Linked DNA regions of Homo sapiens: all the other regions are linked to region 1. The links come from fine-mapping of genetic effects on gene expression. A gene starts in region 1. Each other region holds a variant in brackets. All regions are shown on one strand. Distances are between the middles of the regions.

Region 1 (10,193 bases):
ACCCTACAAAGTGTTATATTACTTGATAGTGAATATTTTCAAGAAATTAAGAGGAAATAATCATTCTTTATATGTGCATTCATATTTCTATTCCTGATGATCTTCCTTCTTTCCTTAAGATCCATGTTCCCAGCCAGGCAAGGTGGCTCATGCCTGTAATCCCAGCACTTTGGGAGGCCAAGGCGGTGGATCTCCTGAGGTCAGTAGTTTGAGACTGGCCTGGCCAACATGGTGAAACCCGGTCTCTACTAAAAATACAAAAATTAGCTGGGTGTGGTGGCAAGCGCCTGTAATCCCAGCTGTTCAGGAGGCTGAGGCAGGAGAATCGCTTGAACCCAGGAGGCAGAGGTTGCAGTGAGCCGAGATTGCGCCATTGCACTCCAGCCTGGGCAGCAACAGTGAAACTGTCTCAAAAAAAAAAAAAAAAATCCATGTTTCCATTTCATTTCATCTCTATTCAGATTGAAATCTTTTAGCATTTTGTGTACTGCAGGTCTATGAGCAATGACGTGCCCATACTGTCTCCAATAGCACATTCAGGTTCCTAATTCTTAAAGCCATTTATGCCCATTTACTCTTTCTTATTTGGTAATGACCTCACCCAAGTCTCAGATTAGAAACACTAGAATCCACCACAAACCTCTTTCCTCTTCTTACCAAACCCATTGCATCACCGGCCTGCGTTATCATCATTTCCCTCAGATCTGCCTCAGCTGCCACTTGCCTCCTTCACGATAATGCAACCTGACCCTCACCCTAACCACTAGGACCCATCCCGAATGCTGTCCAGGCCACACCTGAGTGCACCCACCTAGTCCACTCTCCACTGGGTGAACAATGATCTTTAATGGGTGGATCTGATGAGGGATGTCCCCGGGGAAAACTTGACAATGGCCTTGGTGACTCTGGACTTGGGTGATCCTCCGTACTCTATTCAGATCCTCTGTTCTGTCCTCAGCCTGCCTGCCACACTCCCCACCTCTCACGTTTAACACACTCTATGAGCAGGCTGAGGACACAACGTCTGGGTTAGTGCAGCTTCCTAGAATCCACGTTACTCATTCATTCATTCATGGAAGGCATGTAGGCGCCTGGCGACCGCATATGCAAGGAGCCGTGGAGTATCGGGAACATGGCACGGCCCTTCCTTTCCTTAGCACAGTTTCCATTCACAGGAGCTGAGGCACAGCCATCATTAACCCCAAAGTCCATGAACTTGCAAAGAGTCTGGAGGGGCTGCCCAGGCAGAGGTGACAAATGCCATCGGTGGCAGGGACAGTAGTGGACATAGAGGAAAGAGTGCACACAGACAGAATCCCAGACAGACAGGAATCCAGTGTAATGGGGGAGGGGAGTAAAAACAAGAGAGGTACTGCTGAATTAATATTGTAATATGATTACAAAATGTAGGAGAGTTGAAATAATATAGATCCATTCATCACCATTCACTCTTTCTGCTGTGCAGGACGAGGCTGTGCCGTCCGTGGGCCTCTCTGATTGAGGGAGAATGGGCGTGTGGCCAGAGATGCACAGCTGTGTTGGGCCACAGAAATGGGCTCATGGGGGTGTCCATGGGCATGGTTAAGAGAGAGAAGGAAAACAAGAAGAAGGGAGGTCAGGGGTTTGGCTTATTTCAGTTCTTGTCCCATTGAATTCTAGGGACCCTGCCTCCTCCCGGACATGAGCCATTGGCGGGGTTTCCCTGTCTTGTGACTCACCCACCTGTGATTCAGGCTCCTTGCTTTACACCAAGTTTGAGCATAAAACCTGCTAATATTTCTCGTCAAAAATTAACCCGAGTAACCTCTTCTTTCCTCTCTGAGTCACCCACATCCTTAAAACTGCCCAGGATAATCACAGTTCCTGCATAGGTTGTTGTGTGAACTGAAAGTGTTAATATGTATGGAAAGTGCTTAAAACACAGAACTTTAAACACATGCTCTGATTAGTACGATCATTACCCTCAATGTTGATTTTAAGCAAACCATATTATCCTGGCCAAACTACCATGACCTGGAGCCTTGGGACTGCACAGCCTCCCTCTGTCAGTCAAATATGGAGGGATGACATCTCTGGAGCCAGCACAGCCACTCTGGAGGTGGGGGAGGTGACAGTGGTGGGACCTCATGCTTCCTGATAGTTATTTAGGTCCCTGCTGTCACCTGCTCCACCAGACTGTGGGCTCCAGGGAGTAGTCAGTATTCACACAGGGCTCATTTGTCCTTCCCCAACCCAGGCACAGATTTTCCCAGAGTAAAGGGTTCCTCCTCTACCTGATGAATGAATCACTCCTGTCCCCGCCGCCAAGCACATGCAGTGAGACTAGCTGTGGCCTCAGCTCACTGCGTAAGGACAGCCTCCAGCTACAGCAGGGGCAGAGGACCCTGTAGAGCTCTGTAGTCTCTGTTGAGAACCACAGGCAGGAACTCCCAGAGGCCAAGTGCAGGGCAGAGACTGGGAGAAGCAGCTGCCTGGAGGACTCTGGATCCTTGCAGAAGACATGTCCAGTGTCTGCTGAGACTGACTCTAGGTGCCTGAGAAGAAGCCACCCAGGGAAGGAGAGACTAGATTGTGGACCACTCAGGGCTGGGAGATCTGCATGTTCCCCTTCCCACAGTGGACAGAACGCATGCCAGGGTGCTGGCGAGTTACCATCAGAAGTCAACCACTATAACTTTAGTAGTTAACTAAATGAGCCCCTGAATAAGGCAACTGAACACAAGGTATATAGTTATATGTAGATAAAAGCTAGTATCAGAGGAGCAAACTGATCCTCAGTTTTCTGTGACCAGAATAATGCCCAATAGACTTTGAAAGAACACAGTGATGTTCGGTACCCAAGAAAGCAAAATTCACAATGTCAAGCAATAAGAAATTACTATGCATGAAAAAAAAAGTCCCTATGGGCAGGAAAAAAAATGTAATCAACAGAAACAGTGGCCGTAATAACAGATATAATGGTGTTGATAGATTAAATAACTTAAAACAGGTCATCTAAAGCTTACAAATATACTCAAGAATATTTAAAAAACAGAAAAACAAAAAACACCACCACCAAAATCATAGGTTGCGCACGGTGGCTCAGGCCTGTAATCCCAATACTTTGGGAGGACAAGGTGGGAGGATTCCTTGAGCGCAGGAGTTTGAGACCAGCCTGGGCAACATGGTGAAACCCCGTCTCTACTAAAAATACAAAAATTAGCCAGGTGTGGTTGCAAGTGCCTGTGGTCCCAGCTACTTGGGAGGCCGAGGTGGGAGGATCACTTGAGCCCAAGAGGTTGAGGCTGCAGTGAACTCTGACTGTGCCACTGCACTCCAGCCTGGGTGACAGAGTAAGACCCTGTCTCAAAAAAGAAAAACACAAAGATGACCAGGAAATAGATGGAAGATATTAAAAATGCCAAAAGAGAACTTCTAAAGTTCAAAAAATATATATCTGATATACAGTAGATGAGATTAACAGCAGGTTAGATTCTGCAGAAGCAGATCAATGAACTTGAAGAGCCCTCACAGGGAAATGTCCAAAGTGAAACATAGAAAATGATGGGGGAAAAAAAAGAACAGATACTAAGTTAGCTCTGATACAAAATCTAACATTCTAACGTAAATATAATAAGATCTCAGTCACCAGAAGAGACAGAGTATTTGAAGAAATAATGGCTGAAAATCTTCCAAGTAGAACATAAACTCGGCTGGGCGTGGTGGCTCACCCCTGTAATCCCAGCATTTTGGGAGGCTGAGGCGGGCAGATCACGAGCCAGACCATCCTGGCTAACACGGTGAAACCCCGTCTCTACTAAAAATACAAAAAGTTCGCTGGGCGTGGTGGTGCATGCCTGTAGTCCCAGCTACACGGGATGCTGAGGCAGGAGAATGGCGTGAACCCAGGAGGCAGAGGTTGCAGTGAGCTGAGATCCCACCACTGCACTCCAGCCTAGGCGACAGAGGCAAGACTCCATCTCAAAACAAACAAACAAACAAACAAAAACATAAACTCTAAAACCCCAAATCCAAGAAATTCAACATAACTCTGTTGTGGCTTTCTTTCTTTCTTTTTTTTGAGTTGGAGTCTTGCTCTTGTCTCCCAGGCTGGAGTGCAGTGGCGCCATCTCTGCTCACTGCAACTTCTGCCTCCCAGGTTCAAGTGATTCTCCTGCCTCAACCTCCCAAGTAGCTGGGATTGCAGGTGCCCACCACCACACCCAGCTAATTTTGTATTTTTAGTAGAGACGGGGTTTCACCATGTTGGTCAGGCTGGTCTCGAATCCCTGACCTCATGTGATCTGCCCGCCTCGGCCTCCCAAAGTGCTGGGATTACAGGCATGAGCTACCAGACCCGGCTGTTGTGGCTTTCTTTACAGAAAAGTCTCCAAGGAGAACATAAACTCTAAAACCCCAAATCCAAGAAATTCAACACAACCCAGTTGTGGCTTTCTTTACAGAAAAATCTTCCAAGTAGAAAGAACATGAAAGTCTAAAGCCAAAAATCCAAAAAATTCTTTATAGAGATAAAAAAAAAACCCCACAACAGAGCAAACAAACCAAATCACTGCAAACCAGTGCTAAGAAAAATCTTTAAAAGCAGCCAGAGACCAAAGATCCACCACCCAAAGAGAGGCAAGATGCCCTGGGGACCTAGGCCCACAGAAACCACAGCAGGAGGGGGAGGCAGAGGCCCCTGTACACTCTCCTCACTAGGACAGTTAGGTCCTCCCTCCACTCAGAGGTGAGACCAAGGACATACTGTGGTGTGGGGCGGAAACAGTGAAAACATGAGGTGTGTAACAATATCCCATGAAACTCCAATGCTTCACACTGACATTCTTCTAGGTCAACACCAGCATTCTCTTGACCTTCCTTTCACTGTTCCTCCTCTCCCTTCCAGCCCCTCTGTACAGTCTTGAGTTAGGTCTAGGCCCACACACTTCCCCACTCTGAGCTGCGGTCTCTTCCTCTGTAAAATGTGATGATTCAGAACCTCTCCTGGCCCCAAGCGCAGTTCCAGGCGCTGAGCACACCATGCTGTTCCCTACAAAGCCGACTCTTTGTCCCTTCCCCATTATCACGGATACTTGCCAAGAGGTGGCAAGAAAGGCTCTTCCCAGGCCAAAATGCAGCTGCTATTATCAAGCAGGTCAGGCCCCAAGTGCCACAACTCCCTTCTCCTAAATCTCGTTTTCCCAAGGAACCCCAAACAATGGCATTGGCGATGAGCGGCCCCGCACGCGTAGGGGCGCAGCCGCTAAGGAGGGGAAGGGGCCTCTCCAGCTGCGCCCGCGACGACTCCCGCGCACGGAACGGAACCACTGGGCCGCAGCGACCACAGGGGAGTTCTTCGCCGGCCGCAGGTTCAAAGCGATCTGCAATGAGCGCCTTTAGGAATTCATTCGAAGGCGCAAAAGAAAAAGAAATTAAGGCAGGAACTGAGCGAGGAAGGAAGGGAGGGAAAGAAAGGAAGAAAGAGAAAAAGAGAAAGAAACAGAAAGTAAGGAAAGAAAACAAAATCAAAGTCCGACGACCTCTCCGTGGCTTCACGCAGCTTACTCGGGAATTCCCTCCTTGTCGCCCTCCCCCACTGGATTCGGGAATTTACACCAAGTGGAGCGCGCGCTCTGTTCCCTGGCGGCCCAGGTCGCTCCTGCCCAACCCGGGGACCCATCTCTTCCCCCGACTCCGACGACTGGTGCGTCTTGCCCGGACATGCCCGGCCGCAGGCGACCCGGGCCACGCACCCCCGCCGTGTCCCCCTCTCTCCCTGCCCTCTCCAGGCGCCAGGCACGCTCTTCCCCAGCCAGGGACCGCGGCGGGGACTCACCAACAGCAGGACCGCGGCGACAACGAGCACAAGGGTCTTGGGGACCCGGGGCCCAGGCCTGGCTCCCCGCGCCTCCCTGGGTCCTGGGCCGTGCCTTTTCCGGGCCCCCGAAGCGGCCGGGGCGTTCTGTCCCCGTTGTTCCATGGCGGTAGGGAACGCTCTTATAGTCTCTCAGGCCCGTGGGTTTCAGCCCTTAAAGTAGATCGGGCATCGTCGGTGTATTTTGTGGGCGCAGAGATTGCGGGGTTCTCCGGCCGCGTGCTGATTTATGTGTCCAGGCTGACTTGGGGCGGCGCGGCTGTACTTTCACTGCCTCCGGGCAGGCGTCATTCGGGGCGGGGCGAATCAGATCCAATGTGCAACTGCAAATTCCACCACAGGTTGGTGACAATAAATAAGAGTCTCGTCAACGCAATCCTCCGCAAGCGCGTCCAAGTGGGGAGGGGAGGGGAAGGGACCGGAACTAACCTTCGCCCTGGCGGCTGCGCCCCGGGCTGTGGTTTGTTTCTGGGTCCTGTCCGCGCCAGGACAGGCACCGAAACTTGGGGGAAATGAGTTGAGGGAGGCACTTGGGGAGTTGACGCCTCCCGGGGTCGCGCGCTTGGCTGTGAACAGGGTCTTGAGGTTCAGAGTCCGCTTTCCAGGCGCGTCTTGATCTTCTCCCCTTCCCAGGGGCACCTGCCCCTTCTGTTCTCTCCTTCTCTCTTCTTTCCTTTTTTCTTTCGTTTTCTTTCGTTCTTTCGTCTTCTTTCCGTCCTTCCTGCTTTCTCTTTCCTTCCTTTCTCTCTTTCTCTTTCCTCCCTCCCTCCCCCTCCCCCTACCTCCCTTCCTTGTGGTTTATTTTTTGAGACAGTCTCTCTGTGGCTCAGATTGGTGAGCGGTGGTGTGATCCCGGCTCACTGCAACTTCCGTCTCCCAGGTTCAAGCGATACTCCCACCTCAGCCTCCCATGTAGCTGGGACTACAGGCCTGCACCACCACGCCTGGCTAATTTTTGTATTTTTAGTAGACACAGGGGTTCACTATGTTGGCCAAAAGACCATCGAACCCAGCTTACACTCACACCTAGTCCACAAATGTGCCTGTGTCCCTGCACCCTTGCTACACTTAGCTTTCATTTGTCACTAGTCTAGGAAATAAAACATGATACATCACATTGTTATGTATTTTCATTCCTTCATGGTACTGTGTCCGGAATTGGTGGGTTCTTGGTCTCACTGCCTTCAAGAATGAAGCCTCGGACCCTCGCGGTGAGTGTTACAGTTCTTAAAGGCGGCGTGTCTGGAGTTTGTTCCTTCTGATGTTCGGATGTGTTCGGAGTTTCTTCCTTCTGGTGGGTTCGTGGTCTCACTGGCTCAGGAGTGAAGCTGCAGACCTTCCCAGTGAGTGTTACAGCTCTTAAGGCAGTGGGTCTGGAGTTGTTCTTTCCTCCTGGTGGGCTCGTGGTCTCGCTGGCTTCAAGAGTGAAGCTGCAGACCTTCAAGGTGAGTGTTACAGCTCATAAAGGCAGTGTGGACCCAAAGAGTGAGCAGTAGCAAGATTTATTGCAGAGGGAAAGAAGGAAGCTTCCACAGTGTTACCACTGCTGGCTCTGGCAGCCTGCTTTTATTCTCTTATCTGGCCCCACCCACACCCTGCTGATTGGTAGAGCGGAGTGGTCTGTTTTGACAGGGCGCTGATTGGTGGTTTACAATCCCTGAGCTAGACACAAATGTTCTCCACTTCCCCACCAGATTAGCTAGATACAGAGTGTGGACACAAAGGTTCTCCAAGGCCCCACCAGACTAGCTAGATACAGAGTGTCAATTGGTGCATTCACAAACCCTGAGCTAGACACACGGTGCTGATTGGTGTGTTTACAAAACTTGAGCTAGATACACAGTGCCAATTGGTGTATTTACAATCCCTTAGCTAAACATAAAGGTTCTCCACGTCCCCACCAGACTCAGGAGCCCAGGTGTCGTCACCCAGTGGATCCCGCACCGGGGTTGCAGGTGGAGCTGCCTGCCAGTCCCGCGCCGTGCTCCCGCGCCGTGCGCCCGCACTCCTCAGCCCTTGGGTGGTCGATGGGACTGGGCGCCCTGGAGCAGGGGGAGGTGCTCGTCGGGGAGGCTCCGGCTGCACAGGAGCCCACGGAGGGGGTGAGAGGCTCAGGCATGGCGGTCCCGAGCCCTGCCCGTCGGGAAGGCAGCTAAGGCCCGGCGAGAAATCAAGCGCAGCGCCAGTGGGCCGGCACTGCTGGGGGACCCAGTACACCCTCCGCAGCCGCTGGCCCGGGTGCTAAACCCCTCATTGCCCGGGGCCGGCAGGGCCGGCCGGCTGCTCCGAGTGCAGGGCCCGCCGAGCCCACGCCCACCCGGAACTCCAGCTGGCCCGCAAGTGCCGCGCGCGCAGCCCCGGTTCCCGCTCGCGCCTCTCCCTCCACACCTCCGTGCAAGCTGAGGGAGCGGGCTCCAGCCTTGGCCAGCCCAGAAAAGGGCTCCCACAGTGCAGCGGTGGGCTGAAGGGCTCCTCAAGTGCCGCCAAAGTGGGAGCCCAGGCAGAGGAGGCGCCGAGAGCGAGCGAGGGCTGTTGAGGACTGCCAGCAAGCTGTCACCTCTCAGTACTACGGATTTTCAAGAATACAGGAGTTTTTGGTACTGGGAGTAGATGACTGGGGGGATCCAGGCAAGACTACAGGGGAGGGCGGCAGAGAAGACTTAATTCCCAGCTGTGTACTTGGAAAACCGTGCTCAGCTGGGGCCAGTCCCTGCCAACCGCCATGCCTGTTAATGGAAATAAGGTCTCCATCCTCAGGCTGTCAGGGTGACTTCAGATGAGCCTGGAGCTGAGCTCAGTTCCGGACCCCAGGTCCTGGCTCTGTCAATGCCGGACTGGTCCAATCTCTATGCCAGGTCCTTCCAACCCCATCCCTCTCTTTATCAAAGTAGGAATCAAGAAGATCCGAAGGCTCAGGCTCTCAGGTTGTTAGAGAGTACTGAAATTGGAGGCTGTGGATGGCTGGGCCCTGCCGTGCTCCCGGTCCAGCTCTGACTCTGGTATGGCCCCAGCTCCTTCCTGTAAAATGAGGGGATAAAAATCTTCAGCAGCCCTGTGTAAACTTCTGCAGGCTCTGTTAACAGGTCTAGGAGGACAAATTGCAGGGCTGGTGTCAGTCACTCTAGACTCTGGATCCCCAGGGCACATGTCCTCCACTCAGCAGAGGCTGCACCTTCTCCTACCTGTACCTCAGTACCAGCTCCCTGAGCTTGAGGCAGAAATTTCTGAAGACTGGGGTGGAGCGCCATGCGGAGGGGCCGTAGAGGAACAGACGAGCCAGAATTCAAATGAGGACGGTGATGGCACTGCAGGGCCACAGCCTGGTTTACCTGCCACTCTTCCAATTGTCTTTCTGTTGGGCACCCAGCCGGTGCCCCAGTTTGAAGAGTGAGCAGGAAAGGTCTCAATCCGTGTGGCCACAGATGGCTGTTCACAGCCTCTACTGAGAGACCACAGTCCCAGTTCCGGTTCTCTGTCCTGCATCCAGAAGTGGCAGGGCAGCGAGGCTCTAGCTTCCAGGTTGGGGATGGGGACAGTGGAGACAGTGCCATGCCCTGAGCCTGTGCTGTTGGGCAGCTGGTGTCCTGCTCCCAGCCAGAGACTGCACATCTTCATGTAGTGGATTTTCCTAACAACCTGGGGACATGAGAGTAGGTTGTTTTCCCTGTTTTACAAGTGGCAAAACTGAGATTCAGGAGCAGTGTCTCCAGCATTTTTGGCCTCACCTTCTGTATAATAGCAGCCATATTTGCACCTCTACAGGGCTAGAGTTCTCTGAGCAGCTGCTTCTCTATTCTCTGTCCTGCACTTGGCCTCTGGGAGCTCGTATGGTTCCTCAGCAGAGTCCACAGGGCCCTCCCTGTGCTACAGCCTGGAGCCTGTCAGGCGGTGAGCTGAAGCCACGACTGCACTCACCTCATGGGTTTGCGGGGAGAATGATTCACCCAGGAAGCAGACAGTGAGCCCTTTACTCTGGGAACACCTGTGCCTGGAGTCTGCTGAAGGCAGGGAGGACAAATGAACCCCATGTGAATCCTACTCCCTGGAGCCTACAGTGTGGTGGGAGAGGTGACACCAGGGGTCATATAACTAATAGGAGGTAGCATGAGGGAGGCCTGAGATCTCACCACCCTTGCCTCCCCCTCCTCCAGAGAGGCTGTGCTGGAGGGAGGCCATGCCATTGCAAGGCCATAGGATGTGGTATTGTTTGCCTGGAAGATGTGGTTTGATTACAGCCACCATTGAGGGTCATGGAGGCAAGCTAAGCTCCCTTTAAGGGTATTTTTTTTTTGGCTGGGCCTGAGAATTAAGTTGACATAAGACAGGTCCACAGGAGAAA
Region 2 (10,193 bases), 64 kb after region 1:
ATTCCTGGCCCTCTCTCTCTCTAAGGAAGGCGGTGTGCCGTGTGATGCACACACATTTTATTGAATCCCATGTGAAAAATAAATAAATCTTGGGACCATAAAATCACTAAGCCAAAGGGAAAAGTCAAGCTGCGAACTTTGTCAGGCAAACCTGCCTCCCATTTTATTCCTAAATAAGATAGTTACAAAGATTAAAAAGCTGCATACCTCCCTCACAATTCGCCCATGAGGGAATTCCTTGTGGGCCTCAAGATCCTTACCCTAAAACAGTTCTGCTGAATTTCACTCTGGCAATGTAAATTGATAGCTGATCTTCACATGTGGGACAGAAAGTCATCCCTCTGTCCACCTGAGACAAATGCATATCTGACTGCTTCCTCCGCCCTATTGTTTATGAAAAATGCAGATTCACTGAGCCAGACTAAGGCATGAGTGACTATTCCTCCACCTCTACTCTTTTACATATAAGCTGTGTATTCAGTGAAAGGCTGATCAAAGACCCAAAAGAATGCAACCTTTTGTCTCTTATCTACCTATGACCTAGAAGCCTCCACTTCTGGTTGTCCCACCCTTCTGGACAGAACCAATGTACATCTTACACATATTGATTAATATCCCATCTTTCCCTAAATGTATAACAGAAAGCTGACCCCAACCATTTTGGTTGGGACCTCCTGAGCCTGTGTCATGGGCGTGTCCTCAACCTTGGCAAAATAAGCTTTTAAAAAATTTTTATTTATTTATGTATTTATTTTTGAGACAGGGTCTCGCTTTGTCACCCAGGTTGGAGTGCAGTGGCAGGGTCTTCGCTCACTGTAACCCCTGTCTCCCAGGTTCGAGAGATTCTTGTGCCTCAGCCTCTCGAGTAGCTGGGATTACAGGCATGTGCCACCACACCCAACTAATTTTTGTATTTTTAGTAGAGGCACGGTTTTGCCAAGTTGGCCAGGGTGGTCTGAAACCCCTGACCTCAAGTGATCCACTGGCCTTGGCCTTCCAAATTGTTCGATTATAGGCAGGAGCCACTGTGCCTGGCCACAAAATAAACTTTCTAACTTGATTGAGACCTGTCTCAGATATTTTGGGTTCGCACCCTCGCAGTCCTGAGATCTGGGTGGGGTTGCTCCCTCTTGGGGTGACTTATTGCTCAGGATCTGTTTGCCCCACCTACCTCTGCCCCGGCCTCAGGGAATGAGGCTGAGCTGGGTGTAAACAGAGATCCCCCCCACAGACCCTGCGGTTTCCACAGATGCAGAAGTGGCCACCCTGGGACCTGCTCCCATGACAAGCGCAGCCCAGGCAGCCTCCTCCCTCCTCTGAGCTCCTGCTGCAGCCACTGTCTCTCCCTCCCTCGGACTCTCACCCACTTTGCTTTCAGCCTCACTGGATGGGTTCTCAGCCCTGTGTGAGGGCTGATTCTCTGATGACCTTGACTCCCTGCAGCGCCTTGGGTGTCAGGGAGGCCAGGCAGTGTGGGCGCGCTCTCTATGGATGGGAAGCAGGTGGGCGCTGGAGCAGTAGGTTCATCCATGCAGGGGGCTCTCCAGGTTCCCCCCTTGGGTTCTGGGCCTAATGTGGGAACTTCTGTCCTTTCTGAACTGAGTCCCAATTCACCTGGCTCTCTACATGGCTTTCTCCACCCAGCTCAGAGGCTGTGCTTCTACAACTTTGGACAGATCCTACCCTTTAACTCCTGGAACCCGCTCATGAGGCAGCCGAGCCTCATGGACAATGAGATCCTCATGGCCAGAGCTGATGCAGCGATCCCTGGGAATGCCTTGTACGGATGCTAGTGAGATGGGTCAGCAAAACCAGGTGGGGCCCCTTGGTCCACACCCTGCAGGATGCCTTGGAAACACTGGCAGAAAGATGTATTTACAGGCATAATTATTTTTTAAAAACTCTGAAGCTAGGCCGGGCGCGGTGGCTCACGCCTGTAATCCCAGCCCTTTGGGAGGCTGAGGTGGGTGGATCATGAAGTCAGGAGATTGAGACCATCCTGGCTAACATGGTGAAATCCCATCTTTACTAAAAAATACAAAAAATTAGCCGGGCGTGGTGGCGGGTGCCTGTAGTCTTAGCTACTCGGGAGGCTGAGGCAGGAGAATGGCGTGAACCCGGGAGGCAGAGTTTGCAGTGAGCCGGGATCACACCACTGCACTCCAGCCTGGGTGACAGAGCAAGACTCCATCTCAAAAAAAAACCAAACTTTGAAGCTAATATATTATATTAGATGTTTTGGTCAATACATTCATTTGTCTCATTCTTTTTAACAAAAGCATAGTAGCTTCTTTCATAGTGGAACTATGGTCCATTCTACTGTTGCCTTCTGTGGGTAGTTGCATTTGTTTTTGAAAATTCTAACAGCAATCATCTTGTAGGTATCACATATCCAGATAGTCATGTGCACTACTTAAAAGCAGAATTGCGGAGTCGATGAGTTAATGATTTAAAAATTTTGTTTAGATTTTGACAAATTGTCCTCCAAAAGAAAATTACAACAAGTTTACTCTCACACCAAGAGTCCTACACCCTTGCTACTCTGAACTTTCATTCTTTGCTAGTCTAACAAGTAAACAATGGTGCATCTCACTGTTGTGGTTTTGATTTCTCAGCATTATTTGAGGATTTTCCAGGGTCCGGGAGTTTTCTGAGACTGAGTGTAAATGATCCGCAGACCTCAGATGAGATGGCAGAGGAGGGTGGCAGGGAAGACTGAATTCCCAGCTGTGCACTTGGAAAACCGTGGTCAGCTGGGGCCAGTCCCCACCACCTGCCATGGCTGTGAATGGAGATAAGGTCTCTGTCCTCAAGCTGTCAGGATGACCTCAAATGAGTCTGGAGCTGAACTCAGTTCCTGACCCCAGGTCCTCGCTCTGTCAGTGCTGGGCTGGTCCAATCTCTGTACCAGGTCCTTCCACCCCGCCCCTCTGTCTATCAAAGTGAGAACTGAGAAATTCTGAAGGCTCAGAAGCTTAGACACTCAGGCTGTCAAAGAGCCCAGAGATTGGAGGCTAAAGACGGCCAGGGTTGGCGGTGCTCCTCTTCAACTCTGTGACTCTGGTGTGGCCCAGCTCCTTCTTGTAAAATAAGACAGAGAGGCCTTATTTATGCAGAGGGCCTGTATAAACCGCAGTGGACTGTGTTGGCAGTGTGAGGTTGTGTGGGAGGACAAACCACATCCTCAGGGCTTGTGTCAGTCACTCTGGACTGGATTCCCAGGGCACATGTCCTCCACCCAGCAGAAGCTGCACCTGCTCCTACCTGCGCCTCAGTACCGGCTCCCTCAGCTTGGGGCAGAAGCTTCTAAAGACTAGGTTGGAGTGCCATGGGGAGGGGCCATGGAGGAACAGAGGTGCCAGACTGCAAGTGAGGACAGCGATGGCACTACAGGGCCACAGCCTGGTTTACCTGCCATATTTCCAGTTGTCCTTCTGGTGGGTGCCCTGCCCAGGTTGCAGTTTGAAGAGTGAGCAGGAAAGGTGTCTGTCGCTCCCACATCTAGGTAATGTAAAAGCTAAACCCTCCAGGGGAACTGTAAAAGTTGGGGTACTATATGGGTGGCCTAAGCACTTGACTCCTCGGGGGAGAAGCTGGGGGTTGGGAGTTTTCTCCTGATGCGCAGCAGTGTACACGGGGTGGTGTTTGTGTGTGAATGTGTCCCAGCTTTTCCTGCCCATTTCAATGTGGAGTTTTCTCAGTTCCCCATGTGTAGGAGTCTCTCCACTAGTTTCTGGGTTTCTCTCAGATAAAACTGATTCATGTGTAGATGTTTATTTGGTGCTTCCACAAAGAGAGGAAAAGTGGAGAGCCTCCTGTAGAATTATCTTGCTGATGACAAAAACCTGGTTTTCCTGGTTTTAAACCTAACTTAGCTTCACTCATGGGTACTGTGCAGAGCTAGGTGGGGGGAAACAGACTCTGAGGGATAATTTACCTTGTATAATGGAGCAAGAATTACCAGCTCAGGGACTATAAGGAGGATTAAATGAGATGTGT[G/A]TGAAATGTACTACATACACTACCCGATGATATATAAGGTGAGTCAGGAATACAAATTTATATTTTCTGGGTTTTTTTTTGTTTTTTTGTTTTTTAAGACGGAGTCTCATTCCATCACCAGGCTAGAGTGCAGTGGTTCAATCTCGGCTCACTGCAACCTCCACCTCCTGGTTCAAGTGATTCTCCTGCCTCAGCCTCCTGAGTAGCTCGGACTACGGGCATACACCATCATGCCAAGCTAATTTTTGTATTTTTAGTAGAGATGGAGTTTCACCATGTTGGCCAGGATGGTCTTGATATTTTGACCTCGTGATCTGCCTGTCTTGGCCTCCCAAAGTGCTGGGATTACAGGCATGAGCCACTGTGCCAAGACACAAATTTATATTTTCTAATATCCTCATGAAAGAAGTACACGACATTAATGTTCATGACATTTTATTCAATGTAATATAACCAAACTTTTCTCATTTCAACATGTAATTAATGCACAATAAAGTATTAATGAAACATTTTACATTCTTTAGTACACTAAATTCTTTTTTTTTTTGAGACACAGTCTCCCTCTGTCGCCCAGGCTGGAGTGCAGTGGCGCGATCTCGGCTCACGGCAAGCTCCACCTCCCGGGTTCATGCCATTCTCCTGCCTCAGCCTCCCAAGTAGCTGGGACTACGGGCGCCCGGCACCACCCCCAGCTAATTTTGTTTTTGTATTTTTAGTAGAGACAGGGTTTCACCATGTTAGACAGAATGGTCTCAATCTCCTGACCTTGTGATCCGCCTGCCTCAGCCTCCCAAAGTGCTGGGATTACAGGTGTGAGCCACCGCACCCGGCCTAAATTTTGTTTTGTTTTGTTTTGTTTTGTTTTTGAGACAGAGTTTCGCTCTTGTTGGCCAGGCTACAGTGCAATGGGGCGATTTCAGCTCACCGCAATCTCCTCCTCCGGGGTTTAAGTGATTCTCCTACCTCAGCCTCCCAAGTAGCTGGGATTACAGGCATGCACTATCACGCCTGGCTAATTTTGTATTTTTAGTAGACACCAAGTTTCTCCATGTTGGTCGGGCTGGTCTTGAACTCCCTACCTCTGCCTCCCAAAGTGCTAGGATTACAGGCATGAGCTACAGTGCCCGGCCTAGTACACTAAATTCTTGAAACAGGGCAATCAAATTGCTCATCAAATTCAGGTTAGCCTCAGCTCCAGTGCTCAGGAATCCGGGGGCCAGTGCCTGTCATGCAGGACTCCGCAGGCCCTCAGGAGGCCCTCTACCTGATATAGGCCCTGAACTACAGCCAGGAGGGAAGGTGAAAGAGGAAGGGAAAGACAGATCGGTGTAGGGTGTTGTTAGGGGACAAGGTCGGATACAGTAGGGGGAGGAGAAAAGGGTGGGAGAAGAGGATTTAGGATTCTATTGGTCTAATGAGAAATGGCATAACTATAAGACAATCCTATTCATGATGACTACAAAGAATAAAATAGAAGGATAAACCCTTGACAGAAGCAGGAAGCTTGAGCCCAGGAGGTTGAGGCTGCAGTGAGCCCTGTGCTCCAGCCTGGGTGAGAGAGTAAGACCCTATCTCAAAAAAAAAAAAAAAAAAAAACTAAAGAAGTTTACATTACCTTTTGTCCAGGAGGGGACTTTCATAAGATTATAATCAATGACAAAATAGACATATCAATAGATTAAGCTTCTTAACATTAAAAATTCTGCACATGGAAATCTTTGACCAAATAAAATTGCAAACAAGAAAGTAGAAACCTATTATCTGCATCTGAGAAAGTGCATGGGTAGGGACCCGTATCTCAATAGGCAGGATAAAAGTTGTAAGTTATCAGTTTGAAAAGAGAATCAAACAGCTAATAAACATGTGACACCTAAGTCCAAAAATAAAGAAATGCATATTTAAGTTAATTAATTTCTTCCTAGTTTGAGAAAACAAAAACGAAAGAGCAAGCACATCAGCTCAAGACTAATGAAGTGTTGTTGGAACCAAAACTGTGCATGTGTATGTGGTGTGCACATGGGTGTGAGTGTGTTTGTGTGTGTGTGTGTGTGTGTGTGTGTGTGTGTGTGTGCAGAAAAAAATGCCTCTGGACATTAACACAGTAATTCTATTTCTTTCAGGAAGCTACCTTATGAACTTGGTCAGAAAGTTGTCCAAGATTTCTTTTCAAATACATACACAAACTTCTGGCTCTAAGTCCATCTTGAGACTGTAGACTCCCATCCTCACCTTCAGAGGGGCATTCCATGGGGTGCCCAGGGTGTGTGTTGGGAGAGAACCAGATTGGAGTCAAAGGTCAGGGAAAGGAGCACTGGCCTAGAGAATAAGTCTCTTGTAATGAAAGGCCATAGGACACAGAGCCTTATTGTGGAGTCCTAATTAGGGAAAGTGAGCCAGACTGGTGGGAGCAGGGGAAAGCAAAAAGAGAAAGCAGGTAAGCGTGAAAGGAAAGTAAATCTTGGGGGCCCCAAATCACTTAGCTAAAGGGAAAAGTCAAAACTGAAAACTTCTTAGGGTAAACCTGCCTCTCATTCTATTCAAATTCACCCTCTGCTCACTGAGATAAATGCACATCTGATTGCCACCTTTGAAAAGGCTAATCAGAAACTCAAAAGAATGTAACTATTTGTCTCTTATCTACCTATGAGCTGGAAGCCCCCTCCCCGCTTGGAGTTGTCCTGCTTTTGCTTCCAGTTAACCCACCTATTCTGGACTGAACCAATGTTCATCTTACATATGTTGATTGATGTCTCATGTTCTCCCTAAAATGTATAAAACCAGCTGGGTGTGGCGGCTCACACCTGTAATCCCAGCACTGTGGGAGGCCAAGGTGGATGGATCACCTGAGGTCAGGAGTTTGAGACCAGCCTGACCAATATGGCGAAAAACCATCTCTACTAAAAGTACAAAAATCAGCCAGGCATGGTGGCTGGCGCCTATAATCCCAGCTACTCAGGAGGCTGAGGCAGAAGCTTGAACCTGGGAGGTGGAGGTTGCAGTAAGCCAAGATCACACCACTGCACTCCAGCCTGGTGACAGAGCAAGACTCTGTCTCAAAAACAAAACAAAACAAAACAAACAAAACACCAAACTGTGCTCTGACCACCTTGGACACATGTCATCAAAACCTCCTGGGGCTATGTCAAGGGCATGCATTCTCAACCTTGCCAAAATAAACTTTCTAAATTAACTGAGATCTGTCTCAGATTTTCACGGTTTACATAAATCTGCCTTTCTTCGTGGTCCAGGACACAAAGCCCTCCTGTGCAAATAACTCACAATCTTCCCGCACTCAGCTATCATCAGACACCTGCAAGTCGGCTCACTGCAACCTTGGCTTACCAGTACTGCACAAAGCCCTCTTCAACAGTTGGCATAAACACTAGCCTATAAAATCTCCAGTAAGCCTTTGTTACTTTGCAGTCAGCTCCTCTTCTGCTGGCTTGCCCATTGCCTCCTTGCTACACATTTTCCTACTTTCTCTAATAAATCTGCTTTTTTTTTTTTTTTAAGATGGAGTTTTGCTCTTGCTGCCCAGGTGGGAGTGCAATGGTGTGATCTCAGATCACTGCAACCTCCCCTTCTGGGTTCAAGCAGTTCTCCTGTCTCAGCCTCCCGAGTAGCTGGGATTACAGGCACATGCCACCACTCCTGGCTAATTTTTGTATCTTCTGTTAGAGACAGGGTTTCACCATGTTGGCCAGGTTGGTCTTCAACTCCTGACCTTGAGTAATCCACCCGACTCACCCTCCCAAAGTGCTTGGATTACAGGCGTGAGCCACCGTGCCCAGCCATAAATCTGCTTTTCTTTACCTACAACTGTCTTGGTAAAATCTGTTACCTCTGCGCCACTGGGCCAGATACTGGTCTCTCCCCTGTGACACTTATTTACTGCTGGGTGGGATAAAGGGAAGAAGAAGAGGGAGAATGGAGAAGGAGGAAAGGCAGGGTTGGTCCAGAGAGGAGGAGAGCCGGGCTGGAGGAATGTGGAGGATGGAAATGGTAGCTCCCAGCCCCCAAGGGGCAAAGGCTGGGCCACAATTGCCCCTTTCTGTTTTCTAACCCTGACCCAAATTTCACTGCCCACATCCTTCTTAGATGTAAAAGATGCAGTCCCACGGAGGAAGGGCAGAGCCAGGAGGCAGTGGGGCTCTGGGCTCAGAGCTCAGGAGTCACCTTGCCTGAGAAAGATGTTCTAGCTGAGAGGGCCTGGCCATGGGGTGGGCTCCAGGAAAACGCTGGTTAGGTCTGGGATAGAGCAAACTTGAAACAAAGACAACCCCTGCCATGGCTGTGTGGCGCCAAGACTTGGAGATCAGGGGTTAAATCCTCATAGACAGTAGGCGGTGGCAACACAAGCAGCTCTAACTCTGGGGGAAGCCATGTTGCCCAAGCCCAGGCCCCTCCATGCTCAGCCTCCATGCAGCTCACCCAGCCCAGGGTTCCAAGTGAGGCCATGGGCAGTGCAGGCGGGAAGCAGGAGGTAGCATGGAGCAGCCGCAGCCCCACCTCCCCTCTAGGGAAGGCAGACAGCATGGGAGCACGCCTGGGCCTCCTGGGAGCTGTGGGCCAGAGGGAGAGCAGGTCCTCCAGCGCAAGGGGAGTGGGAAATGGCTCTCACAGGTGCCTGCAGGGCTGAGCAACCTGGGTCCACTGATGGGGATACAGGGAAGGGCTGCTGTCCCTCTCCCCAGAGGGAGGAGCAGACAGGAGAGAAACAGGGAGGAGGCGCGAATTCCAGTAGCCAAGAACCTGGTCCTTTAAAATCCAGGGAGTCATAGGCAGGAAACTCCCCCCACACCCCCACCGCCAGGCGGGCCAAGCCTGAAGGCAGAGAAGGGACAAGTAAGGAGGCCCAGCAGGAACGAAGCCCTGGCCTCCTGTCACTCAGAGCTGTGTCACAGCAGGAGAGGAGGATGGAAATAAACGAACACCACACCTTTTTAATATGAGGTTTCATATTTATTTTGGTCATAAACATATGAGTATTTCATATATAACCAGGTGTTATGTGCTATTTGGCCCGGGTATAAAGCAAAACCTAAACAAATCAACCAACGCCAAAAAACCCCAACAATTTCATGTTGTCAGGAAGCTTATGTTAAAGGAATAAGCTTAAACACTGATAAGGCTGGTAGTCTAGATGCATCTTCAAGGAAGGCCTCTGAGGAAGGGACAAAGGAGCTGGGACCGGACTGGCTCTCTCTGAGCTTTGAGACCAAGTCTCCTGCACAGAAGGCCCAGCAAAGGCAAAGACTAGGAGGCAGCAGCACCCTGTGTCATCCAGAAGTGCAGGGGACAAGGTGTGGGACGCCAGATGGAAGTGGGAGAGGATGGAAGTGCGAAGACCGGAAAGGCCATCCCCTCCTAAAACTCCATGGACACAACAATCTGAATGTGCGAACTTCAGGCAGTTCTAACTTTGTCCCAGCCAAACCAGTCCCGGAACAAAACACACAATGCCTTGAGATGGAAAAGACTGAAACCCCTAGAATGACTATATCCGTAATTTATCCTACCACGACTGGGCTACTGTGGAGAAGAGTTTGCTGGAAAGAAGCTAAAACGATTACTGAGGTTTTTAAATAAAATAATGGAACGTGACACAAGGACAAATGTGTCAGCCATTTTAGATCCTGTTGTCACAGTGTTTAAGAATTGATATCTCTGAGATGAGTCAGATGCTTACAGAGGGGCCAAGCTCCTCAAACAGGGAATCTGTACCCTAAAACGCAGCTCAGGAATCTCTGCCCTAAAAGGCATCCCAGGGACTCAGTTCACAGACCACCAGAAGCGAGAGGGGCCCATCCATGCCTGAGTCGGCAACCATTTCACACCATTCCCAAGCACCGTCCACTCTTCCCTCTTGATGCCATGGCAGATGCCGGGGCAGATAAACACCTGCTCTGCCCTGAGCCCAAATGAGGCTCAAGATTCACTAACGTTCAACTGTAATGGCGCTTGAAAGAGAAGCTCTTCGCAGTCTCGGATCTAACTTAATTCTCACTGTCCTCATCTGCTGTGGACAAGTCGGAAGATGCAGTCCCATGACTGTCCCAGCACGACAAACCAGACACATGGCTTCCCAAAGATACCAGGCTCTTCAAAATCCTGGGCATATGTAAACATCTACTTATAAATAAATAAATAAATATTTATTTATAAATAAATATGGCTATATACCTCTAAAATTA
Region 3 (10,193 bases), 140 kb before region 1:
GGGACTGTCCCTGGCCTGTGAAAGCATCCGACTGACCCTCACTACATAAGGGACAAACCCCAAGACAAGTGAATGGATGGTGAAGCCGAGAGTCCTGTCCCGCAGAGTAGCATATACTCCTCTAAAAGATTGGGTTCCTGCCCGGCCTCTGCACCTCCCATCCCAGGAGTTAGAATCAGCAGGCTTCCTTTCTCTGCTCCTCTTGGCTGTCCACAGGTGTGCCCAGTCCAAGGGTTTCCAGGGAAGAGGGCTGACGCTGTGTGCACATGGGTGTGCATGCAAGTGTGTGTGTGCACATGTGCACACATGTGCACGTGTGCACTTTATTGCTCGTCTTCCCAAAGGAAAGGGTGTTTGTCGTGTTTGCAAACAAGACAACCTAGCAAAGCTTCATGACAACAGCCTCATAACTTGCGAGCCATATCACAATCTATTTGCTCTCTGATAGTGAAAAACACTTCAAAGAGAAGAGTCTATTCCCCGCATTGGAGTAACTTGTGTGCTGCCGCCCTCTGGAGCTTGTTGTCCTACTGGGCTTAGCTGACTGCATGAGGCCTAACCAAGGCAGCACTGAGGGGAAGGAAGAACCCCTTGTGGCCCTTCCCTGCCACCCTGCACAGAAAGGACCAGAAGGTCAGCCTTGGTGTGTGTGCTTGGTCACATCCCGGCCACGACCCTTCCATCTCCAGGCATTTGTGACCCAAGTCCTGCCTAGATTGACAGCAGCACCTCCTTCTAAAACACAGCAGAAAAGAGGCCAGTCTCCACCATTGACACTCTGCGGGCTCAGTCTGGCCCAGGAGTCAAGAAATAAAGAAGCGGAGACCAGAAGGCCAGATCAGCTTCCCCAAAACACACTCTGGCTGCTTAGGGCAGCAGCAGACCCATTTCCCACTTCTATGACTCTTCCCCAGGCTTTCCAGACCCCTAAATGTAATAGCACTAATCACTGCCCAGTAAAATAGTTATTTCCAGTTCCTAAAATGCTTTGTTCTTCTTTTACACAACTTTGGGCAAAAGAAGAGCGTGTCTCATGTTGTGACAACAAAGCGTCAAGATGCACTGACCTCTGCCTGTTTAGGCAACTTGGGAAGCTCTGTCTTGGTAAATACCAGCTTCTCTCCAGCCCAGAAGCCATCTGAAGGCCCAGGCACCCCGCGCCTTGAGAGAGGACTCCTCCCATACCACGCCTTCTTCCACTTATCTGCCAACTCCAAAGCACACACCAGCTGGTCTCCACCAGGCTTGGGGTCCCAGATCTCAGGGGCAGCCAAGGAGCTCCCAGAGCAGGGGAGCAGGAAAAGGCCTGGGCAGAATGGCCTCAACCATCACCAAAGTTTCCAGTCTGCAGCCCTCCCACCAGCCCCCAGCCTTCTCCTCAAGTCCACTCTAAGGAAGGCACAACTTTATGGCAACAGCCATCTGCAGCCACCAGACCCAACCCAGATGGCTCTGCACGCAGCTTCAAGTCACCCAGATGAGCAAGCCTGGAGGAACATCAAGACCCCCAACTGTCCCCCCGCTTTAACACAGCCCTGCTCACTCACGTCCACGGCCCCCGGGAACTTGACTATCGGCTCCATCCAGGAGGTGATCTTCTGTCTGTAGTTGTTACAATCAGGAACAACCTTGCAGCCAATGTTCCCCAACTCTGGGTAGAAAACTTCAAGGCCCCTATGAAGAGAGAGGGGAGGTTGCCCTGTGTCAGGGTTTTAAGGGAGCCTGGGGTTCCCAAGGCTTCAGTCTAGCACTATTGGGAATGTAAAGTGAAATGGGATCAAATCCTAAACCTGCCACTAACTAGTTGTGTGACCGAAGAGTTACTTGACCTCCTTGTGCCTCAGTTTCCTCACCTGTAAAACGAAGACACTAATAATTCCTCCCTCATGGAGTCAGTGTGAGAAGAAAAGTGGCGGTCAATGGTCAGAACAGAACCTGGCACGTTGTAAGTCATCAGAAAGTATAATATTAATTATCATCAGCCTTTACTTCCCTAGAAGAACAGATATCCTTAGGCAAACTTAGTGTCTTTAAAGTAGGATTGAGTTTATAAAAACAATACCTATAGATTGCTTTTCAGGAACATTCTTATTACAGAAAGAAAAGCTTAGCAAGTCAGCACAGCTTCCTTCAAGGGCATAGACCTTCTCTCTCCCCTAAACAATCAAGAGCTCCCCATGCCTGAAATCCCACCATTAGGTGAAGAATTGGCTTCTTTGGGTTAAGCATTGACTGTAGCCTAGGTTCTCTTTCAAAATGCAAACATCCCTCAGGGGGTAAAACACTGGCTCACTAAGACTGTCAGTATGAATGAACCAGTTCATGTATTTGCTCCCTGAGAAGAAGGGCCCGAACAGCACCAGGGTTCTAAGAATGTGGCTTCCTGGAAGGGAAGAAAATATGATGCAGAGCAAGGCAACAGAGCCTGCAGGGCAGGGCAGGCCGGGCTGGGCCATGACAGCACCAGGCTGGCTGTAAGTGCATGCTTATATTTGACACTCAGGAACACAGGTAAGATTTTTCAAAGACATTTTTTAAAACTGTTTTTGCTTGCCCTTCTATTATAATTTATCTCCATGACCTAAGTCCTCTGTAGGGTTAACGAGGGTTAAGACATCACTGAGAGAGAAAGGGTGTGGGTAGAGAGTGGGTGTTGCAGGTCCCCAGCCTTTCCTAACACCTTGCAGGGCTAAGCCGCTCTACAGCCTGCCGGTAGCCACCCACAGCGGTCCACAGTGCCTTGCTGGGGGTGATATCTAAGGGGACCCTGTGAGGATGTAATTTGGAGAATAGATCTGGAAAGGGAGCTCCCTGAACCTGGGGCCTGGGAGTAGGCCAAGAGCAGCTTCCTGGTGGGGAACCCTGCATTGCCCCTCCCACCTTCCACCTCCCACCCTTCCAGTGGCTCCTGAAGTCCAGCCTTGGGCAAAAGGCCGCTGAGCCCCCAGCACCTGGCAGCCCCGGACCAGGACACTTCGGTGGGCCAGCGCCCCCAGTGCCAGAAGTCACATGCTCTGGTCTCAGAGAGTGGAAGCCGGATGAGTCATGGGCTTGCTGAGCAAGTTTGTTTCTTCTAACTCTTTGCGCATTTACAGCAATTCTTGGTGGATGGCAAGATTTTCACAGCTTTTGGAGAAGTTTTAGGTGACCAGTTTTATCTTCCTAGCATCATCTTAAGGACCGTTTGGTTTGTTTCTGCTGCAACTCCTTGCTGCCGCAGCTAGCGAGATGCGAGGCAGAGAGGGGACCCACCAAGGGCAGAGAGACAGACAGCAAACAGCACAGGATGGGAAAACTGAGAGGTAGGGAGGAGGTAAACTGAGGGTGGAGGGACGCCCTCACGCCCATAACCCCTCTCCCCTTTTTATCAGAGTGGAATTGTTGTAAATATCAAAAGGATTAAACAAGCAAAATCATCAAATTGTTATTTGATGAGGTGGGCACAGAGCCACAGAGAGTGCCCTGAAGGACAGGGCACATGCCAGGGAACCAGGGATTTGGGTCTTGTCTCTGTCCCTCTCTTCACGCCCATAGGGCACTGCCAGGCCAGCGTTTGAACATAGCGTATTGCCCCACCTAGGATGATGGGAAAGGGGCATGTGCAGGCCTCTGCCCTGCTCAGCTGCTTTAGCAAAGTCTTGGAGAAGGACACGGAGACAAATTTATTTGATCTGCAGATGGCACAGAGCTGGTAACCAACAATTCTGATGATCAAATTGACTTACGAGACGACCTGGACAAACCTGAGGTGAGCTGAATCAAAAATTAAAGTTACTGAGAAAATACACTTTAAATTTTGCATTCAAGACTAGGCACGGTGGCTCATGCCTATAATCTCAGCTCTTTGGGAGGCTGGGGTGGGAGCATCACTTGAGCCCAGGAATCTGAGACCAGCCTAGGCAACATAGTGAGACCCTGTTTCTACCAAAAATTAAAAAAACAAACAAACAAAAAAAAAACACCATGGTAGTGCCTGCCTGTGTTCCCAGCTACTTGGGAGGATCACTTGAGCCCAGGAGGTAGAAGCTGCAGTGAGCCATGATTGCATCACCGCACTCCAGCCTGGGTGACAGAGCAAGACCCTATCTCAAAAACAACTTGCATTCAAGCCAGAAAACCTCAAAGGTGCCACCTT[C/G]CTGTGTGCCCTTGCTGCTTGTGGTTTACCTGACATGGAATTCTTCTAATTTCCATGTGGAGAGTTTGGGGATCTCCTGATCTCCTTGACAAGACTTGAAGGCACTCTAGACAGTGGAGTGAAAAGATCAGGGGCCCTGGCCCCAGCTTTGCCATGAACTAATGCTACATAAGGGACTGGGGATGAAGGGCATGACTTTTACTGGGCCACCCCAATATATCGGGGACATCACATATGTATGATTTCATTTCATGCAACCATACCTTGAGGCAGCTGTTATCACTATTCCTATCTCCAGATGAGTAACTGAGAAACTGTTGGACAATACCTATTTGCAGCTGCTACGTGTTGGAGTGATCTGTTGTGTACAACAGAGAACTAGTACTGTGGGCTTGGCTGCACTTTCTTCCCCGCACCACACGTTTTCCCTAGTGAGCTGTTTCATTCCTCCAGGCTTCAGTTTGAGCTAGGTGGTCATGTGGGTCTCTGTCATGGCAAGAATTAGATCACAAGGGCTGGGCGTGGTGGCTCAAGCCTGTAATCCCAGCACTTTGGGAGGCTGAGGTGAGATGATCACTTGAGCCCAGGAGTTAGAGGCCAGCCTGGGCAACGTAGTGAGATCCTGTCTCTATAAAACATAGAAAAAATTAGCCAAGTGTGGTGGTACGCATCTGTAGTCCAGCTATATGGGAGGCTGAGGTGGGAGGATCGCTTGAGTCTGGGAGGTCAAGGTTGCAGTGAGCCATGATCCTGCTTCTACATTCCAGCCTGGGTGACAGAGGGTGATGCACTGAGACCCTGTCTCTAGAAACGTGGCTTCTCAGCTGTGCCTGTATGAAGGGCTTAGAATTTCAGCTGCCCCTCAGTGAGTGCTATGGTCTGAGTGTTTGTGTCTCCTCAAAATTTATATGTTGGAATTTAATCCTCAATATGATGGTATTAACAAGCGGGACTTGGAAGAGGTGATTAAGTCACCCTTATAAAAGGCACCCTCATAAGAGAGGCTGAAGGGAGCTGCCCTTCCCTTCCCCCATGTGAAGTCGCAGCAAGAAGGTGCCATCTTTGAAGCAGAGAGCAACCTTGTACCGCACACTGAATCCACTAGCACCTTGATTTTGGCGCTTCTCAGCCTCCAGAGTTGTGAGTAATACATTCCTGCTGTTTAGAAATGACCTAGTCTAAGGTATTTTGTTATGGTAGCTGAACAGACTAAGACAGTGAGGATGACAAAAAGACACATGGGATATGAGGCTGCCTCGAAGAGGGGGCTCACTGTGAAAGTGTGGGTCACCCCACTTGAAAAACAGCAAGCCAGGTATGGCAGTGCATGCCTGTAATACCGGCACTTTGGGAGGCTGAGGCAGCAGGATTGCTTGAGCCCAGGAGTTTGAGAACAGCCTGGACTACATACCGAGACTCCCAACTCTACAAAAAATAAGAAACTTAGCCAGGTGTGGTGGCGTGCACCTGTAGTCCCAGCTACTCAGGACGTTGAGGCAGGAGGATTGCTTGAGCCCAGGTGTTCAAGGCTGCAGTGAGCTATGATCAGGCCACTGCACTCCAGCCTAAGTGACAGACAAGACTCTGTCTCTAAAAGAAATGTATTTAAACAGGAGAGACCAAGGCCCCTGAGAGAGGTTGAAGGACTGGGGATGACTGCCCAGGTTGGGGGGAGCTGGGGATGAAGGGGCAGGGCAGGGCATGGCACCTGTCACCACACACATGAATGACCACAAAGAAGATGAGAAACTAGACTAGTTTGTGCACCTCGTGGATCCGCACTACAACAGGTAGGGTTGGTGTTCAAGAAGAGCAGCAGGGCCTCGGGGTAAGAATGTACTTTCTGAAGAACGGAGCTTTTCAACACCAAAAAGCAGGACGCTTTGAGCAGCAGCTCCCATCCCTAGGGGAGCTTGCAGGGCTGACTGGATGGCAGCAGCAGGTGGGGTTTTTTGAGTGGATTCACCTCCTGGCTGCAGGTTTGGAGAATCATGGTTCTTTCCATTCTGCGACTGAGCCCAGGGTTGGGACCGTCGGTGGTTTTGCTGGTCTTGTCTGGGGTATCTCAGAAGCAGGGAAGGTCTGATTCCCGAGAAGCGTTACTCTTAACAATGTCTCACAGCTTGTCACAGTACATAAAATTCCTCCCTTATAGATTAATACCTTTAGGCATTGAGTCCAATCTTTAAGAGTTCCCTGGTAGACCAAATGCCCACAAGAGGAGTGCCTTCTCTGGGGGATCTCTTGCCAAGGTCAGAGCCTGAGCCGAGTGGGGATCTTGAGGAGGGGTCAGTGCAGGAGGTCCTGCTGTCTCCTCAGGGGTCCGATCTGTCCTTGATGCATTTTTCATTTCATCATCATTCATGATGCTCTCTTCCAAACAAAAATCTTCAGTGACAATAAAGACAAAGCTCCTCTTTTGCGATGATGGCTTGAAATCAAAAGACATCTTCCTGGCATGCAACCTTAAGGTCATAAGTCTCTTTCTCAGACTGGGGGCCTGCTGGTGTATTCTGGGAGTCCTGAGAATGGGCCCCCTTGACTCGAGTCTGGGAGCCCTGAACCTGGGGTGAAGGTTGTCAGAAGCAGATAGGGAAAGAGCGTGAGTGTGGAGTCAGACAAGGGGGCTAGATCTTGGCTCTGCTACTTTTAAGCTATGTAAACACTGTGGGCAGATTTCTTAATCTCTGGGGATTCTTCATCTGCAGAATGGGGGTGCTAACACAGACTTTGTAGGTTCGTTACTGACAGTGAAAGGAGTCAAGGAGTCCAGGCACCGGCAGAGCACCTGGCACACAGAAGGTGCCCTGGGACTTCCCACGTGTGTCCCCATGCATGGGTCACCAGGGCACCAACATGTGATCTTGGCAGGGCAGAGCCTAGGGCATCTGGAGCCTCAGGCTGGTCACCCCCAATGACCCTACAGACATCCTCATTTCCCACAGTGTGGGAAACACCAGGAACTGCTGAGGTCCTCCTTAAGGGGCCCTTATTGTGGCCCAGGCCTGCTGTACCCTGGCCCAGCTGACCTCTCCTGGTTACGGGGGTGTTGACCTTGCACTGCTCAGAGCGAGAAGCCTGCCAGCCCCTCAGCTCACTCAGCAGAGCACCTAGAAAATTAGATCCCACTTGTGAGAGGCAACCACGTTTCTCTTCCTCCTTCCACGTGAAAACTTCACCCAGAACTGTTTTCTTGCTTGTTTGTTTTTTTGTTTGTTTTTTGAGACAGAGTCTTGGTCTGTCGCCCAGGCTAGAGTGCAGTGGCGCAATCTCGGCTCACTGCAACCTCCACCTCCCAGATTCAAGGGATTCTCCTGCCTCAGCCTCCTGAGTAGCTGGGATTACAGGTGTGCGCCACCATGCCCGGCTAATTTTTTTTTATTTTTAGTAGAGACAGGGTTTCACCGTGTTGGTCAGGCTGGTCTCAAACTCCTGACCTTGTTATCTGCCTGCCTCAGTCTCCCAAAGTCTTGGGATTACAGGTGTGAGCCACCGTGCCCAGCCTACACCCAGAACTATTTAACAAGATTTTTCAAAATATACTGACACGAACAAAGTTTGTTACTTTTTGTTGTTGTTGTTGTTGTTGTTTAGGCAGGGTCTGGCTCTGTTGCCCAGGCTGGAATGCAGTGGCGCAATCATGGCTCAGACCAGCCTTGACCTCCTGGGTTTAAGCGATCCTCCCACCTCAACCTCTTGAGTAGCTGGGACGACAGGTGTGCATCAGCATGCTTGGCTAGTTTTTAAACTGTTTTGTAGAGAAAAGAGTCTCTCTATGTTGCCCAGGCTGGTCTCAAACCCCTGGGCTCAAGTGATCCTCCACCTTGGCCTCCCAAAGTGCTGGGATTACACATGTGAGCCACTTCACCCAACAAAAATGTTACTTTTTAAGAAGGATTCAACTACATAATTTTAAGAGAAGACATGTATTTATGGTTCTAAAAGTAATGTTTGTCAAAAATGTTTTAAATAAAATTAAAAAGAAAAACAAACATTTTCATGAACAGTAATGTTTGTGAAAATTCAAAGGTACAGAAGAGAGTAAGTAGTCAAAGTTCTTTTTCCTCCTCTCTCATTTCTCACACGTGGGCTCAGTGGGGTGTCCCCCTCCTCAGCCACCAAACTGGCAGGGAGGTTTGGCATCAGTTTGGCCTGGGGAGTCCTCAGGATGACCCACAAGTCCACACAAATGAAGGCTTGCTTTTCTAACCGGCAGAGTTGGTGAGGAGAGAGCCGAACGCCAGGCTTTCCAGCTTACCCAAAGTAGAAGCAGCTTGTGCCCTTGGAAGGGAAGAAGCCAGCCTCGTCACCCAACTCCATCCAGTGCCATGATCCCTAAAGGGCCCTGCACAAACGCTCCTGGGTCCTATCACTGACAAAAACCTCTCACACAGGAAGGGTCTAATCATACACCTTCTTTCATTCAAATGCCTCTTTGTTGGGGTTCTGGGGAGAGGGGGCATTCAGGCTGCAGGGAGGGATGGTCTCTCTCTGGGTCTCTCTCTGAGGGTCTCAGCCTCCTGCCCCCACAAAGACCCCCCAGGTTTGGAGGGCCCAAGCAGAGCCGACCACATACACAGCCCTCCTGGTCCTGGGAGAGGTGCATTCTGGAAGGCAGGAAGGAGTCTGTTTCTAAATCCCTTTCTCAGTGCCATCCTCCATCAAGGTGGTCTCCAGATCTGACACGTGTTCTGCCTTCCCATAAAATCAGGCTCAGGAGATGGTGCTTCTTGGTTCTGGATATACCCCTCCCTGCCATCTACCTGCCTGGTAGCCTCTGTGCCTCCCGCCTCCAAGCCTGCCCTGACTTACTGGCAAAAGAGGGTGTCCTCGTCCAAGAGGGCCTCATGGGCACACGGGCTGTTCTCATCCTCGTCTCCAGTGACCACCATCATGAGACCCAGTAACAGTGCTGCTGTGACCAGCCTCATTGTCCAACCCATGGGCACCTGGAACAGAAAGAACTTTAGAGCGGCTGGATCCCCTGCAGGGGCCTTCCTGCCCACTACCTGTGCCCCCGACCCCAGGGGCCCACTTGGCAGGATAGAGACCTCTGGTTAAGCACAGGGAGAAGGACAGGCAGCTTCCAGGGCTCCGCAGCTAATCCAGTCCACCACCCGGACACAAGTACTTTGGGAGGACTGGGCCTCTTCCAAGTTGGACTCAATGTACGTTCCTGGCAGAGGCCCCTCCCCTGGCAGGACACAGCTTTGTTGTCACTCTTGTCCTGGCTGCCAGGGCAGAGAGCAGGCTGCAAAGTAGAAGTGCTTATATAAGCTCCTCGGTGCAGCTCCTTGTCCAGTCCCTGCTGTTGGCCCAGGGATGGTCAGCTGGCCAAAGGCCAGCCTGCTCCTTGGCTGTAAGGCAAGCCCTGGGAAGCTGGTGACCCCAGGCTCAGGGCTAGGAGTTGGGCTGTGCCCCTCAGACCGGCTCTGACTCTCCTGGCCCCCATTCTTCCACCACCTGTCTCCACAGCCTGTGAGCTTCCCCAAGGTGGAGGTGGTTGGACACAGTGACCTTGTGTAGGAGGGACTGCTGCAGGGGGTGGGGGTAGGTGCACCCCAGACCGAGGCCAGCTCCGAAGGGCCAGCTCCGAAGGGCCAGCTGAGGACAGAAGGGTGCGTCTGGGTGCACCTTGCAGCTGTGCTGCACTCAGCACTCTCCCAAAATAATCGTATCTGGAGAAGGAGGTCTGGGGAGCTGCTTGGGGCTCAGAAAGGGGTGGCCTGCCCCAGCAGTGCACTGGGAGGAAGGGGAGCCGGGGACTGTCGCCTGCATTCCCTTGGGGAACAGTCCTGCCACCAGGTGCATGTGGGACTCTGGTTTGAGCCTGAGTGGGCAGGGAGAAGAATAAAGGCGGCTTGCAACAGGCTTTCCAATAGCTCTGCTCTCTGCTTCTCAGAGGCGGGGGTGGGAGAGACGTGCCAGCAACTCAGGACTCCTGGCTTCTGCTCTGAGCTCTCTCTGGATGCTGGGAGGCCACTGTGTCTCCCTAGAATGCACCACTTTTCCTTTTCACAAACAAGTAAAATAATTCCTGTCACCGTGGTGCCTTGCT

Alleles and levels. Alleles are on the strand shown, and positions count from the first base shown. SD is a standard deviation of normalised expression in the study named. Not every link is listed here.
As copies of C replace G in region 3, the expression in skeletal muscle of the gene that starts at base 6,096 in region 1 goes down (small effect, 0.18 SD a copy in GTEx).

The links. PIP is the estimated chance that this variant, and not a neighbour inherited with it, causes the effect.
Region 2: its variant is the best candidate, but not a certain one, in a credible set for the expression of TNFRSF10B in whole blood (INTERVAL, PIP 0.71).
Region 3: its variant is the best candidate, but not a certain one, in a credible set for the expression of TNFRSF10B in skeletal muscle (GTEx, PIP 0.86).

Annotation. Positions count from the first base shown.
Region 1 is chr8:23,062,936-23,073,128 of GRCh38, forward strand. It overlaps TNFRSF10B (TNF receptor superfamily member 10b), which reads right to left and starts at 6,096. Exons shown (of 9, transcript NM_003842.5): 1 at 5,816-6,096. The coding sequence starts at 5,959. It also overlaps the pseudogene TNFRSF10B-AS1. RefSeq lists enhancers at 1,036-2,235, 5,480-5,739, 6,280-6,329, 6,350-6,519, 7,301-7,595 and 1 more, promoters at 3,475-7,188, 5,956-6,626 and a cis regulatory region at 6,081-6,086.
Region 2 is chr8:23,126,649-23,136,841 of GRCh38, forward strand. TNFRSF10D (TNF receptor superfamily member 10d) reads right to left here. Exons shown (of 9, transcript NM_003840.5): 9 at 8,940-10,193. Among named protein-coding and RNA genes, the nearest start is that of TNFRSF10C, 29 kb to the left of the region's middle. RefSeq lists a silencer at 3,164-3,233. The variant G/A (reference allele first, on the strand shown) is at 4,000.
Region 3 is chr8:22,918,637-22,928,829 of GRCh38, forward strand. PEBP4 (phosphatidylethanolamine binding protein 4) reads right to left here and starts at 9,278. Exons shown (of 7, transcript NM_144962.3): 1 at 9,187-9,278; 2 at 8,948-9,084; 3 at 1,548-1,674. The coding sequence starts at 9,078. RefSeq lists an enhancer at 910-1,838. The variant C/G (reference allele first, on the strand shown) is at 4,136.